Linked DNA regions of Homo sapiens: region 1 is linked to region 2. Evidence: fine-mapped QTL for protein levels in blood plasma. Region 2 holds a variant in brackets. A gene starts in the other region. All regions are shown on their reverse strands.

Region 1 (3,484 bases), not on the chromosome of region 2:
CCTTTTCCTGACTTAGTATCTCAAAACAGGTCCCCTGCCCCTAGCATAGTTGCGCCTCTTTATTGGCCACGCCCCCCAGCCTCCACGCCTTAGATCGCGCAGCACCCTGGACCACGCCTTTTTCAAGTCTAGCTTTCTATGGGCGGCCCCGCCTCTCCCGTTCGGCCCCGCCCACCTGTCTGCAGTACTCCAGCACGCGCTGCGGGTCCCGGAGACAGCGTCGAGAGCGCTGTGGGTCTGGTTCCCAGCGGCCGGTGCGCAGGTCCCGGTGAAGGGTTAGGCGCCCGCATAGTCCAGCCACCTGGGCCGACCCCGGGGCCTGGATGGAAGTGGAAAGGACAGTGAGGGCTCGGGGGGCGTTGGCATGAGGGTCCCCTGGTTCTTTGCTCCCTAGGACCGAGACCCCCAGCACCAGCCCCCTCCCCCAAGCACCGCACACCGCCTCCATGGAGGCACCGTTCCCTGGGAAACAGCTCCCGTAGGGCGGGGGCGCCCCAGCGCTCCCGTTGCTATGGCGACCTGGGTCCCCCGGGATTCTTTCTGCCTTGTTGCCGCGGAGACAGACTCCGCCCCCACCCCAGCGCAGCCGCTCTGGAGCCCGAAGGGGTTAAACCTGAATCGCGGAGGAGGAGGCCAGAACCCAGGAGTTCTGGCCCCTCCTCCCTCCATCCCTTGCTCAGGCTCCCGTTGCAGGATGCAAAGCTGACAAGGCCTGGCTTCAGGGGCCTACAGTCCTGGACACCAGGTCCTTGAGGACTGGAGAGCTACATCTGGTTGGGGTGGGTGGTGACTGAAGGACTGGACTCCTGGGTCCTGGGAGGCTGCAAGGGCCTCCATATGGGTCCAGAGAATACAAGGGGTCTGGATTATTGGATCTAAATGCCTCGCTGCTTGGTGGGTCCTATGTCCAGGCGGGAGGGGGTTGGGGCCGAGTCACCTGGGTCTGGAGAGGGGGCTGGACTTCTGGGACCAGGGGCTCTGAATAGACCAGTTCCTATGCTCGAGATGGGAGGGGGCTGGGACGTCGCATGATGGGGGAGCTGGGGCCTGGAACCCTGGGTTCATAAATGTGATTGGGGGCGCCTGGGGGCTGACCACCTGGCTGGAAAGACCGCGCTTTCTGCCCTGGACATGTCCGCGCCGGCGTCCAGAGACCCGGTCCCGCCCCTTCCCCCATCCCCCAGGACCCGGCCCGGCCTCACCTCGGCCGCGCCGGGGCTCCCACCGGCCAGGCTCCCGATGGCGGGCTGCGCGCGCAGAAGCAGCAGCAATAGTGGCAGCAGCAGCGGCAGCGGCGGCTGGCCCGGGCGGCGACTTAGACCGCGAGCAGCGGGGCTGGCGGGCCCCATGTCCCGGCCCTTGCGCCCTCACGTCCCCTGCACTCCCGCCCGGCCCGGCCCCAGCGGTGACAGGAGCTCCCAGCGCCACCGCCGCCACCTCCTCCTCCCGCCGCCCCCGGGCTGCGCCGGCGCCGCCAGCCCCGCCCCGCGCCGGCCCCGCCTTCCTGGTCAGGACAATAGCGTGGCGGCTTCGCGCAGAGTGGAGCAGCTCGGGAACCCCGGGCGGGAGCCTGCGCCAGGCCCCCGCCCCTCGAGATTCCAGGCGTCCCGCCCCATGAAGGGCCCAGCCAGGAGTCCGGCTATGGGCTCCGCCCGTTGTGGATTTTGAGTCCTCCCGCAGGACTCTCACCCTCTTTAGACCCAGACACTCACAGTTTTGTCCTTTTCCAAGGATGCAAGCATCAGAGACCCCCATCCCCTAGTACATTCCTCTGTTGAGGGCTCAGGAATACAGGCCTCCAAAATGTCCCCAGTCAAGAAGGCAGCAGTTGAGACCTAGTCCCTTCCTCTTTCAGATCCAGAAGTCTGGGCACCTTCTCTCTCAGGACCAGAGACCAAGCCCCCAGCCCATTCTCCTTCAGACCCAGGAGTTCACTCTTCTTGCTCTGCTTCCCAAGGGTCCCAGGGGCCTGGACCTTTAACTCCTAGCTCAAGGATCCATGAACCAAAGCCCCCAGGACCTTTCTTTAAGGATCATCCAAGCAGGCACCAGCACCATGCCCACTGTGGATGCAGCACCTCAGGATTAGGGTCTGGATCTCCACGCTTGCTGTAAGGACCAGGGGATTGCCATTTTCCTACCCATAGTCTCCCCTTCCCTGCTCCACTTCAGGGCTCACTTGTTTGTCTCCTCTAATGAGAGTTAGAATTCAGTCTTCCCCAGGACCCCTGGGGCAGCCCTGTCACTTGTGTGCAACTGTGTGGACATCTATGCGTGTGTCTGTGCATACATGCCTATGTGTGTGTCTTTTCTGTTTGCAACTCATGTGTGTGTGTGCGTGTGTGTGTGTGTGTGTGTGTGTGTGAAGATGTATATTAAAAGAGCCCATGGCTGGGCACAGTGGCTCATGCCTGTAATCCCAGCACATTGGGAGGCCTAGGTGGGCGGATCACTTGAGGTCAGGAGTTTGAGACCAGCCTGGCCAACATGGTGAAACCCTGTCTACAAACAAATACAAAAATTAGCTGGGTGTGGTGGCATGCACCTGTAGTCCCAGCTACTTGGGAGGCTGAGGTGGAAGGATGGCTTGAGCCCAGGATGCAGAGGTAGCAGTGGGCTGAGATCATGCCACTGCACTCCAATGTGGGCCATAGAGCCAGATCTTGTCTCAAGAAAAAAAAAAAAAGAGCCTAGAGTGCTTTGCAGGTAGCAAGAGGCTGAGAGGTGGCTCACAGTTTTACTCCTACAGCCACCTCATAGGCTAGGGTAGAGGAGGGACCTTGGGACAGGTCTAAGGGACCCCTTCCTTGGTGGAGAGTGATAATGCCAGTAGACTCCCTAAGACACACTTGCCTCTTTGACTTTTTTTTATTATTAAACATAAATATTTTTATCCCAATATTTTGCCCCAACAGTGGTAATTCTCACTGTATCCCCACTCCTTGGGTCCAAGTCTTTCTGAGTCTTTAAGGAAAGTAAAATCAAGATGGTGGCCATCTTGGGTTCCTAGGGAGTATATGGCCATCTTGGCTGCATTTCCATTGGCCGAGCAAAGTTCCCCTCAGGGAGAGCCAGGGTGGGGCCTGGTATGCTCTTCATCTTCATCTATCCTATGCTACCTTTCCTCTCAATGCAGATGGTCATCTTGAAATATCTTCTTTCAGTGGCTAGAAACAACTTCCATCCCGGCCCCAAACTCCCAACACCCACTGCCCTGTCCCCATCTCTCCTCAAAGGGCCTACCTGCCATCTTGAATCTCTTTTACACCGGGGAATAGGTGGGCATATTGGGTGGCCATGTTGCTCCCACTTGGGGCATCTCCTTTGGCTGAGCTGACTGTATACAAATGCTCCTGACAAATGTAATGATCTTTCCCTCCCCTTGTGTTCAGTTTTGGAGGAGTAAGGTCGCCAACTTGTCCTGGCTCCTCAGAAATCAGAACAATCCATTATGGCAAGTTGGAGATCCCAGGACTCTTCCATT
Region 2 (8,424 bases):
GTAGAATACGTTTAAAGTTGTTTTGTTGATAAGACTTCTGGAGAAACGTCTGGCCAAAAATAACTGTTTCCTGGGTTTAGAACAACAGATCCGAGACAGCTTAACCTTTGGTTATATTTCTGCTTTAATATATAGTAACATTTGAAAATACACAGATATCCAGGAAAAAAAGGTAAAGCAGTATGAGGTATTGACAGCACAACTGTGTTTTAATTTGGGAGTTAATTTGGGGTGTTATGTAACAGCAATCATACTTGTAGACAAACACATCCACTAGCTCTGCAAACACATTCAAAGGTAATAGTATATAGTACACTCCACCCTGTAAAATATGTCAAATACCCCCACTCTACAAATTCACTGTGTTTCATTATTTTTTTTTTTGTTTTTATAAGAAAAGGGGCATATCATTATAATTCACAATCCAAGTCAGAGTCTTAATTTAGGTATGAAATATTACCTGCCAATTTGCTTCTCAAGCTACTTTAAAAATATATATATATTCTTTAAAGCCATTTTATGGCCATGGGAATCTAATTAATTTCATAATGATGTTGGTTGAACATGATACCAAAAAATGCAGGTATTTTCAAGAACAATAAAATAGATAACAGCATTAAAGCATAATCCTTTAAGAATTCATGAGAAAAAAAAGGATGATAAAACTTAAGCTTCTTTTTCAGATGTTTAAAAATTTCTATAAAATTCTTTGTCCCAAGATTAATCATATAACCATGGTACATAAAATATGCTAACTACATTGCCTGGTGTCAAGGTGGGAAAATCCTCTTTTATAACATAAAATCCTCTTCTAATCCATGTTGACCCAAGTCCTGGCTGTCTGAGGGCAGATTCCTGTCAAGAGACCTAAGGTTGTCATGGAAAGCATCACTTTCGTCTACTAGTTGGTAATCCTGTTCCATTTCCGTTAGGAAGCCACTCCCAGATCCTGATCCAGAGCCGGAGCCGGAGCCGAAGCCTGATCCAGAGTAGTCCTCAGAAAGTGGGAAGATACGATTCAAGTCCTGGATTCTCGTCTTTCTGAAGTATGAAAGAAAAATGGGAAAAAAACCAGTGGAGTTTGATATGTGGGAAAGATAATTATAATAGTTTTTTTAATATAAGGAGATAAATACAGCCATCTAGTTGCTCAAATTAAGAGATTTAAAAGCTTCCCAATTATTCAATGTTTTAAAATCAACAAAAAAACAGGTCAAATGTTCCTATGTGTTTGCCTATACTTATTGCACCTATCAACTTCACATCTACCTATTGCAGACTTGCATAAACAGTGTTAATTTTGTTATCACTAGCATATACATTCTATATTTGAAATTTACTTAAGAAATCATTTTAATTTTTATTTTTGGAGGCAGAGTCTTGCTCTGTTGCCCAGGCTGGAGTGCAGTGGTGCCATCTCGGCTCACTGCAACCTCCACCTCCCAGGTTCAAGTGATTCTCCTGCCTCAGCCTCCCGAGTAGCTGGGACAACAGGGGTGCGCCACCATGCCTGGCTAATTTTTGTATTTTTAGTAGAGATGGAGTTTCACCATATTGGCCAGGCTGATCTCAAACTCCTGACCTTGTGAACCACCCACCTCCCAAAGTGCTGGGATTACAGGTGTGAGCCACTGCACCCGGCCCAAGAAATCATTTTTAAAAGAAGTCCTCTTGGCCGGGTGTGGTGGCTCATGTCTGTAATCCAAGCACTTTGGGAGGCCAAGGTGGGTGATCACTTGAGGTCAGGAGTTCGAAACCAGCCTGACCAACATAGTGAAACCCGGTCTCTACTTAAAATACAAAAATTAGCCAAGTGTGGTGGTGCATGCCTGTAATCCCAGCTACTCGGAAGGCTGAGGTGAGAGAATCGCTTGAACCCAGGAGGCGGAGGTTGCAGTGAGCCGAGATCGCGCCACTGCACTCCAGCCTGGGTTACAAGAGCAAAACTCCATACCCTCCACCAAAAAAAAGAAAGGACAAACAACTAACAACTAAGTCAGCCCAAACAGATGACATTTTTTCCTAAATTAAAATTTCCATAAAAGTTCTAACAATTTACAGGGCTTCAACAAAGCTCACTTTTGAGAAATTCTTTGTAAAAAGCTAAGCTTTATATTTACCAGCATATAAACATTCAATTTCCTATCAAAAAATGACCCTGCCTCCAACTTGCACTCATTCAGCTGAAGAGTGCTGAAAGGTAAGGCTGCCTTCTGGGTTGAGTGTGATGATTAGAAATTCAAAGAGCACAAAATGGCCAGAGCAATGACGACAGCCCTCGGTGACAGAACAGGGCAACAAAGCATCAGAGACAAAAGCTGAGTGTCACAGCCTACAAGTCATTTCCTCCATGAAAATAATAAACCACCAGCATACAACCAATTAGAGTTTTAATTCATGTACGCATTCAATAAATATTTGTTGAATATCTGGTCCTTGTTTTGAGGGCCTGGGATAGAACAGAGGCAGATCGATGAAGCCCCTTCTCAAGAAGTTTTTATTTTAGTGGGGAAGACAGACAATGAAAAGTGAATAAATAAATCAGGAAAATCATAGGTGGCACAGAGAAATGAAATTGACCAATGTAATAGGGAGTGACCAGGTGGCTACTTTAGCCTGGGGTGTCGGAGCTAGAATCACAGATTTGGTAGTTAAACCCATGCAACCGATGGAGGTCGTCGAGAGAAAGCATGTAGATAGAGAAGGGGGCCCAGGCCAGAGCCAGGGTCACACCAACATGTTAAATACTGAGCAGAGGAAAAAGCACAACCAGAGAAGTAGGAAGAAACAGGATAAGGCAGGGCATGGAAGCCTCAAGAAAAAAGCATTTCAAGGAAGGAGTGGTCAACCATTTTTTTTTTTACAGAAAGGGCCTCCTTCTGTTGTGCAGGCTGGAGTGCAGTGGCGTGATCATGGCTCACTGCAGCCTCACCCTCCCGGACTCAAGCCATCCTCCCACCTCAGCTTCCTTTGTAGCTGGGACCACAAGCATGAGTCACAACGCCCGGCTAATTTTTCTATTTTTTGTAGATAGGGTCTCACTATGTTGCCCAGGCAGGCTGGTCCTGAACTCCTGGGCTCAAGTGATCCTCCTGCCTTGGCCTCCCGAAGTGCTGGGATTACATGCATGGCCCAGTTAGCTGTTTTTGAAGGCAATTAAGGATCAAGTAAGCTGAAAATAGAGAAGTAATCAGTGACTTTGTCAACCAGGGTGGAGTGTAGGAACAGAAGTCCAGCCACAGAGGGGGTGAGGAAAGGAGGGGGCAGGCATGGGTGGCCCTTTCAGGAGGTGTTATTGTGAAGAGGAGCAGAGAAGGGCAACCACTGGAGAAGACGCAGAGTCAAAGGAGAGATGTTGCCTAAACATAGGAGATACTAAAGTCCACCCCTATACTGATGGGAAGAAGACACTGAGTTCAGAGAGA[T/G]AACTGCAGAATGGAAGTCCTGGAGAAGATGCATGGGAAAAGGATACCAGCCACAAAGAGAGGTGGCCTTGGAAGCTGCAACAGCCAGGGTCCAATCAGGAAACTTCTCCAGATATTTAACACAGAGGGAATTCCTCATACAGGTGATGGAGGAGAAGTGAAGCTAAATGGGGGATAGCGAGGTAACCCAGAGATTAGCAATAGCAAGAAAATATTTCCTTCGGCCAGGCACAGTGGCTCATGCCTGTAATCCCAGCACTTTGGGAGGACGAGGCAGGCAGATCATTTGGGGTCAGAAGTTCAAGACCAGCCTGGTCAACATGGCAAAACCCCGTCTCTACCAAAAATACAAAAATTAGCTGGGCATAGTGGCACACCCTGGAGGCTGAGGCAGGAGAATCACTTGAACCCGGGAGGCAGAGGTGGCAGTGAGCTGAGATCGCACCACTGCACTCCAGCCTGGGCAACAAGAGTGAGACTCTGTAAAAAAAAAAAAAAAAAGAAAGAAAGAAAGAAAAAAATACTTCCCTCCTTGGGCTACAGCGATAGTGGAAGGAGGTTGTCTATTTCCTGAGCCCAGGGACTAGAGGCATCTGGTGGGAGCTGAGGCCATGGGCAAAACAGAGTCCTGCCCAAGGTGCCATCCCAGGCAGGGAGTAAGGAGAAGAAACATACCTCTCTCCCTTCCTCCCAAGCTCTCAGTCTCCCGTCCTTGCCTCCCATTGGCCAAAGTCAGCCACAGCCCTGGGAGCCTGAGAAATGCAGACGCCAGGGGTCAGTTCCACCGCCACCCCCACCCCACAGCCAATACAGAGCAGGGCCAGGGAAGGACAGGAGGATCTGAGGGCAAAAGGGTTTGGGATCAGCACAGAAGCAAGGACCATTCTTTCGCAATGACGGGAAAGAAAGCACAGGGTCAGGGTGAGAAGCAGTTACTGGCTTTGGGGAAGGAAAATAGAGATTTGAGAAGAGGAGGAATGGTGTGCAAGAGTTCTTTTGGAGAATTTGAGCTATTCTCTTAACATTTTATTTTATTTTTTAATTTTAGTTTTAATTGTATTTATTTATTTTAAATGTGTTTATTTATTTTGAGACAAGGTTTTAGTCTGTCACCCTGGCTGGAGTGCAGTGCCACACCATGGCTCACTTCAGCCTTGACCTCTCAGGATCAAGCAATCCTCCCACCTCAGCCTTTCGAGTAGCTGGACCACAGGCATGCATGGCTAGTTTTTGTGTCTTTCTATAGAGACGAGGTTTCTCCATGCTTGGCTAATTTTTGTATTTTTCTGTAGAGACAGGATTTCTCCATGTTACCCAGGCAGGTCTCAAAGCAATCTGCCTGCCTTGGCCTCCCAGTCTGCCTGCCTCGGCCTCTCAATAGCTGGGATTACAGGCGTGCCACCATGCCCAGCTAATTTTTGTATTTTTAGTAGAAATGGGTTTCCGCCATGTTGGCCAGGCTGATCTTGAACTCCTGACCTCAAGCTATCCGCCTCGGCCTCCCAAAGTGTTGGGATTACAGGCGTGAGGCACAGCGCCGGGCCACTAATTTTTAGAGATGGGGTCTTGCCGTGTTGCCCAGGCTGGTCTCAAATTCTTGGCCTCAAGTGATTCTCCCACCTCAGTCTCCCAAACTGGGGGGATTACAGGCATGAGCCACTGCAGCCTAACATTTTAGATTTAAATGAATTACTATTGAAACCAATGATTTAAAGTAATGAAGGATGCTGTAATATTACATTCAAACTTAATGCTGAGGCTTTAAAGTAAGAATGCAAGAGTAGGACTACAAAGTTGCATATTGAAGATTGTAATGATGTCATCACTAATGCAGTGAATACCAGTGATGGAGAAAGTCACCAGTGATGGAGAAAGTCACCAGCGCTGGGAATGGTGGCTCATGACTGTAATTCCGGCACTTTGGGAGGCTGAGGTGGGAGGACTGCTTGAGTTTAGGAGTACATGACCAGCCTGGGAAATGTACAGAGACCCCTGTCTCTACAAAAAAAAATTTTTTTAATTAGATGGGCATGGTGCTGTGTGCCTGTGGTCCCGCTACTTGGGAGGCTGAGGCAGGAAGATCACTTGAGGAGTTCGAGGCTGCAGTGAGCTATGATCACACCACTGCACTCCATCCTGGGTGACAGAGGAGACCCTGTCTCAAAAAAAAAAAAAAACAAAAGAGAAAGTTGCCAGGATCCCAAAGTGATGTGAAATGTACCTGGTTTGGAGCATGATGATTAACCCTGGCTTTGAGGAGAGTGATTTTCTAGGTTTGAGCCTGGAGATTAAAACTTTTATGATAATCCTTTTCTTAATATGTATATTTTGCTACATCCTACATAGCTTTAGTATTCATTGAATTAATGGTTTCTAATATAATTCAATTTTTTGTTACTTATGAATTTATATCAGGTCTTTTTTGCAAGTTTAAAGCAAGTTTTATGTGATCAAAAGAAGAGATTTGATTTTTGTTTTACAAGTCTTGGCTAATTATTCTTCCTTTCCCTAATTTTTTTTTTCTTTTTTTGAGACAGAGTCTTACTCTGTTGCCTAGGCTGGAGTGCAATGGCATAAATAGGGTTCACTGCAGGCTCAACATAGGCTCAAGAGATTCTCCTACCTCAGCCTCCCGAGTAGCTGGGACCACAGGTGCACATCACTATGCCTAGCTAATTTTTGTATTTTTTGTAGAGACAGGGTCTTGCTGTATGGCCCAGGCTGGTCCCAAACCTCCTGGGCTCAAGGGATCCTCCCACCTCAGCCTCCCAAGGTGCTGGGATTACAGGCATGAGCCTCTGCACCTGGCCATTTTTAAAAATAATTACCAACTACTTGAAGAACATTTTTTTAATATAAAAAATGTATTTGAAATAGAGATAGGGTCTCACTATGTTGCCCAGGCTGGCCTCAAACTCCTGGGCTCAAACAATCCTCCCGCCTCGGCCTCCCAAAGTGCTGGGATTACAGGCATGAGCCACCACACCTGGCAGAAGAACATTTTAATCACCTCCTCCAAAAAAAACCCTCATACCCATTAGCAGTCACTCCTTATTCCTCCCTTTCCCCAGCCCCTGTAACCCACTAATCTACTTTCTGCCTCTAGGGATTTGCCTATTCTGGACATTTCATCTAAATGGAATCATACAATATGTGGCTTTTGGTGTCTGGCCTTCCTTCACTCTGCATAATGTTTCCAAGGTTTATCTATGTTGTAGCATGTATCAGTACTTCATTCTTTTTATGACCCAATAATATTCCTTTGTATGCTTATACCACATTTTGCTTATCCATTCAGTTAATTATTGGATTTTTATATATAGTGTGTTCTGTTTACACAAATAAAACAATGTTCAATCATTTTCAATACCTGTTGATGAAAAGTCCTCAATGCTCCTCTCTACCATCCACAAAAAAAATTTCAAAAACATAGGTGAATCATGTATACTCGCACATGTCATATGCCAGTATATACAGTACACTTTTACCATGTACTGCAGAGTAAGAGCCAAACTACCAAAGCAAGAGCTCGAAGCAAAACACTCTGGACAGCTTGAAGAAAAACACTCCCACATCTGTGCCAAGAGGTTGTGAAATTACAGACACTTTAAAATTAGAGAAAAGGCCGGGTACAGTGGCTCATGCTTGTAATCCCAACACTTTGGGAGGCCAAGGTGGGTGGATCACCTGAGGTCAGGAGTTTGAGACCAGCCTGGCCAAGATGATGAAAGCCCGTCTCTACTAATAATACAAAAAATTAGGCCAGGCGCAGTGGCTCACGCCTGTAATCCCAGCATTTTGGGAGGTCAAGGCGGGCGGATCACTAGGTCAGGAGATCGAGACCATCCTGGCTAATAAGGTGAAACCCCGTCTCTACTAAAAATACAAAAAAATTAGCCGGGCGTGGTGGCGGGTGCCTGTAGTCCCAGCTACTCGGGAGGCTGAGGCGGGAGAATGGCGTGAACCCAGGAGGTGGAGCTTGCAGTGAGCCGAGATTGCGCCACTGCACTCCAGCCTGAGCGACAGACTGAGACTCCGTCTCAAAAAAAAAAAAAAAAATTAGCTGGGCATGGTGGCAGGCGCCTGAAATCCCAGCTGCTCCAGAGGCTGAAGCAGGAGAATCGCTTGAACCCAGGAGGCGGAGGTTGCAGTGAGCTAAGATTGCGCCATTGCACTCCAGCCTGGGCAAGAAAAGTGAAACTCCGTCTCAAATAAATAAGTAATTAATTAATTAATTAGAGAAAAGTCCACTTACGGAAAAAGGTCAGTCCTCAGACGGGGGATCTTGTTGGATTCACCTGGAAGTAGTTCGAACATTGGTCCTTTTTCTTCAAGGCAGTTTGCAGAATTACTGTCTGGATTGCAGCGCACCCATTGGTACCTGGCTCTCCGCGTAGGATAACCTGCCCGAGGAACCCACATTGTTACTAAGTATCTACTACACAGCTTCTAATCACTCTGTCCTAAGAAGTTTTTATTTTTATTTTTTTTTCGAGACAGGGTCTCAGTCGGCTGCCCAAGCTGGAGTGCAGTACTGTGATCATAGCTCACTGCAACCTTGAACTCCTGGGCTCAAGCCATTCTCCCACCCCAGCCTCTTGAGTAGCTGGGAATACAGGGGCACCACAACGCCCAGCTAGTTTTGTTTTGTTTTTGTTTGTTTGTTTGTTTTTTGGAGAGATGGGGGTCTCACTATGTGCCCAGGCTGGTCTCAAACACCTGGGCTCAAGCAGTCCTCCTGCCTTGGCCTCCCAGTGTGCTGAGATTACAGGAATGAGCAACTGCACCCCACCCGCCCTAAGAAGGTTTTAACTAAATAGATTCTAAATTTGGTAAAAGGCAAAATGTAGACAGATTTTGTGCCCATTCATATAACAGCAGCACCCACTATGTGCCAACATTTTATATAAATTGTCCTTCTTACAACACTCCAAAAAGTAGCAGTTTAAAGTTAGAATAGGCTTTGGAATCAGCTGCCTGGAGTGAAGTCCCAGGTCTG

Alleles and levels. Alleles are on the strand shown, and positions count from the first base shown. The strength of an association depends on the size of the effect and on how common the allele is.
For the plasma level of the protein whose gene starts at base 1,412 in region 1, T is the low allele of the variant in region 2 and G is the other (weak association).

What was found. A credible set is the group of variants that fine-mapping cannot tell apart. PIP is the chance, under the fine-mapping model, that this variant and not a neighbour inherited with it causes the effect. The UK Biobank Pharma Proteomics Project read protein levels with antibody pairs (Olink). The fine-mapping took linkage between variants from a reference panel, not from the people measured, so its PIPs are less certain.
Region 1: it holds the start of APLP1, and the variant in region 2 is the best candidate, but not a certain one, in a credible set for the plasma level of the APLP1 protein (UK Biobank, PIP 0.56).

The regions. Positions count from the first base shown.
Region 1 is chr19:35,866,502-35,869,985 of GRCh38, reverse strand. It overlaps APLP1 (amyloid beta precursor like protein 1), which reads right to left and starts at 1,412. Exons shown (of 17, transcript NM_001024807.3): 1 at 1,203-1,412; 2 at 176-319. The coding sequence starts at 1,349. It overlaps KIRREL2 (kirre like nephrin family adhesion molecule 2), which reads right to left. Exons shown (of 15, transcript NM_199180.4): 15 at 2,850-3,484. LOC107985317 (a long non-coding RNA gene) reads left to right here and starts at 629. Exons shown (of 4, transcript XR_001753932.2): 1 at 629-894; 2 at 1,856-2,111; 3 at 3,393-3,484. RefSeq lists silencers at 1,172-1,241, 1,332-1,591.
Region 2 is chr10:69,096,488-69,104,911 of GRCh38, reverse strand. It overlaps SRGN (serglycin), which reads right to left. Exons shown (of 3, transcript NM_002727.4): 2 at 7,681-7,828; 3 at 107-1,041. The coding sequence ends at 792. Among named protein-coding and RNA genes, the nearest start is that of SRGN, 13 kb to the right of the region's middle. The variant T/G (reference allele first, on the strand shown) is at 3,426.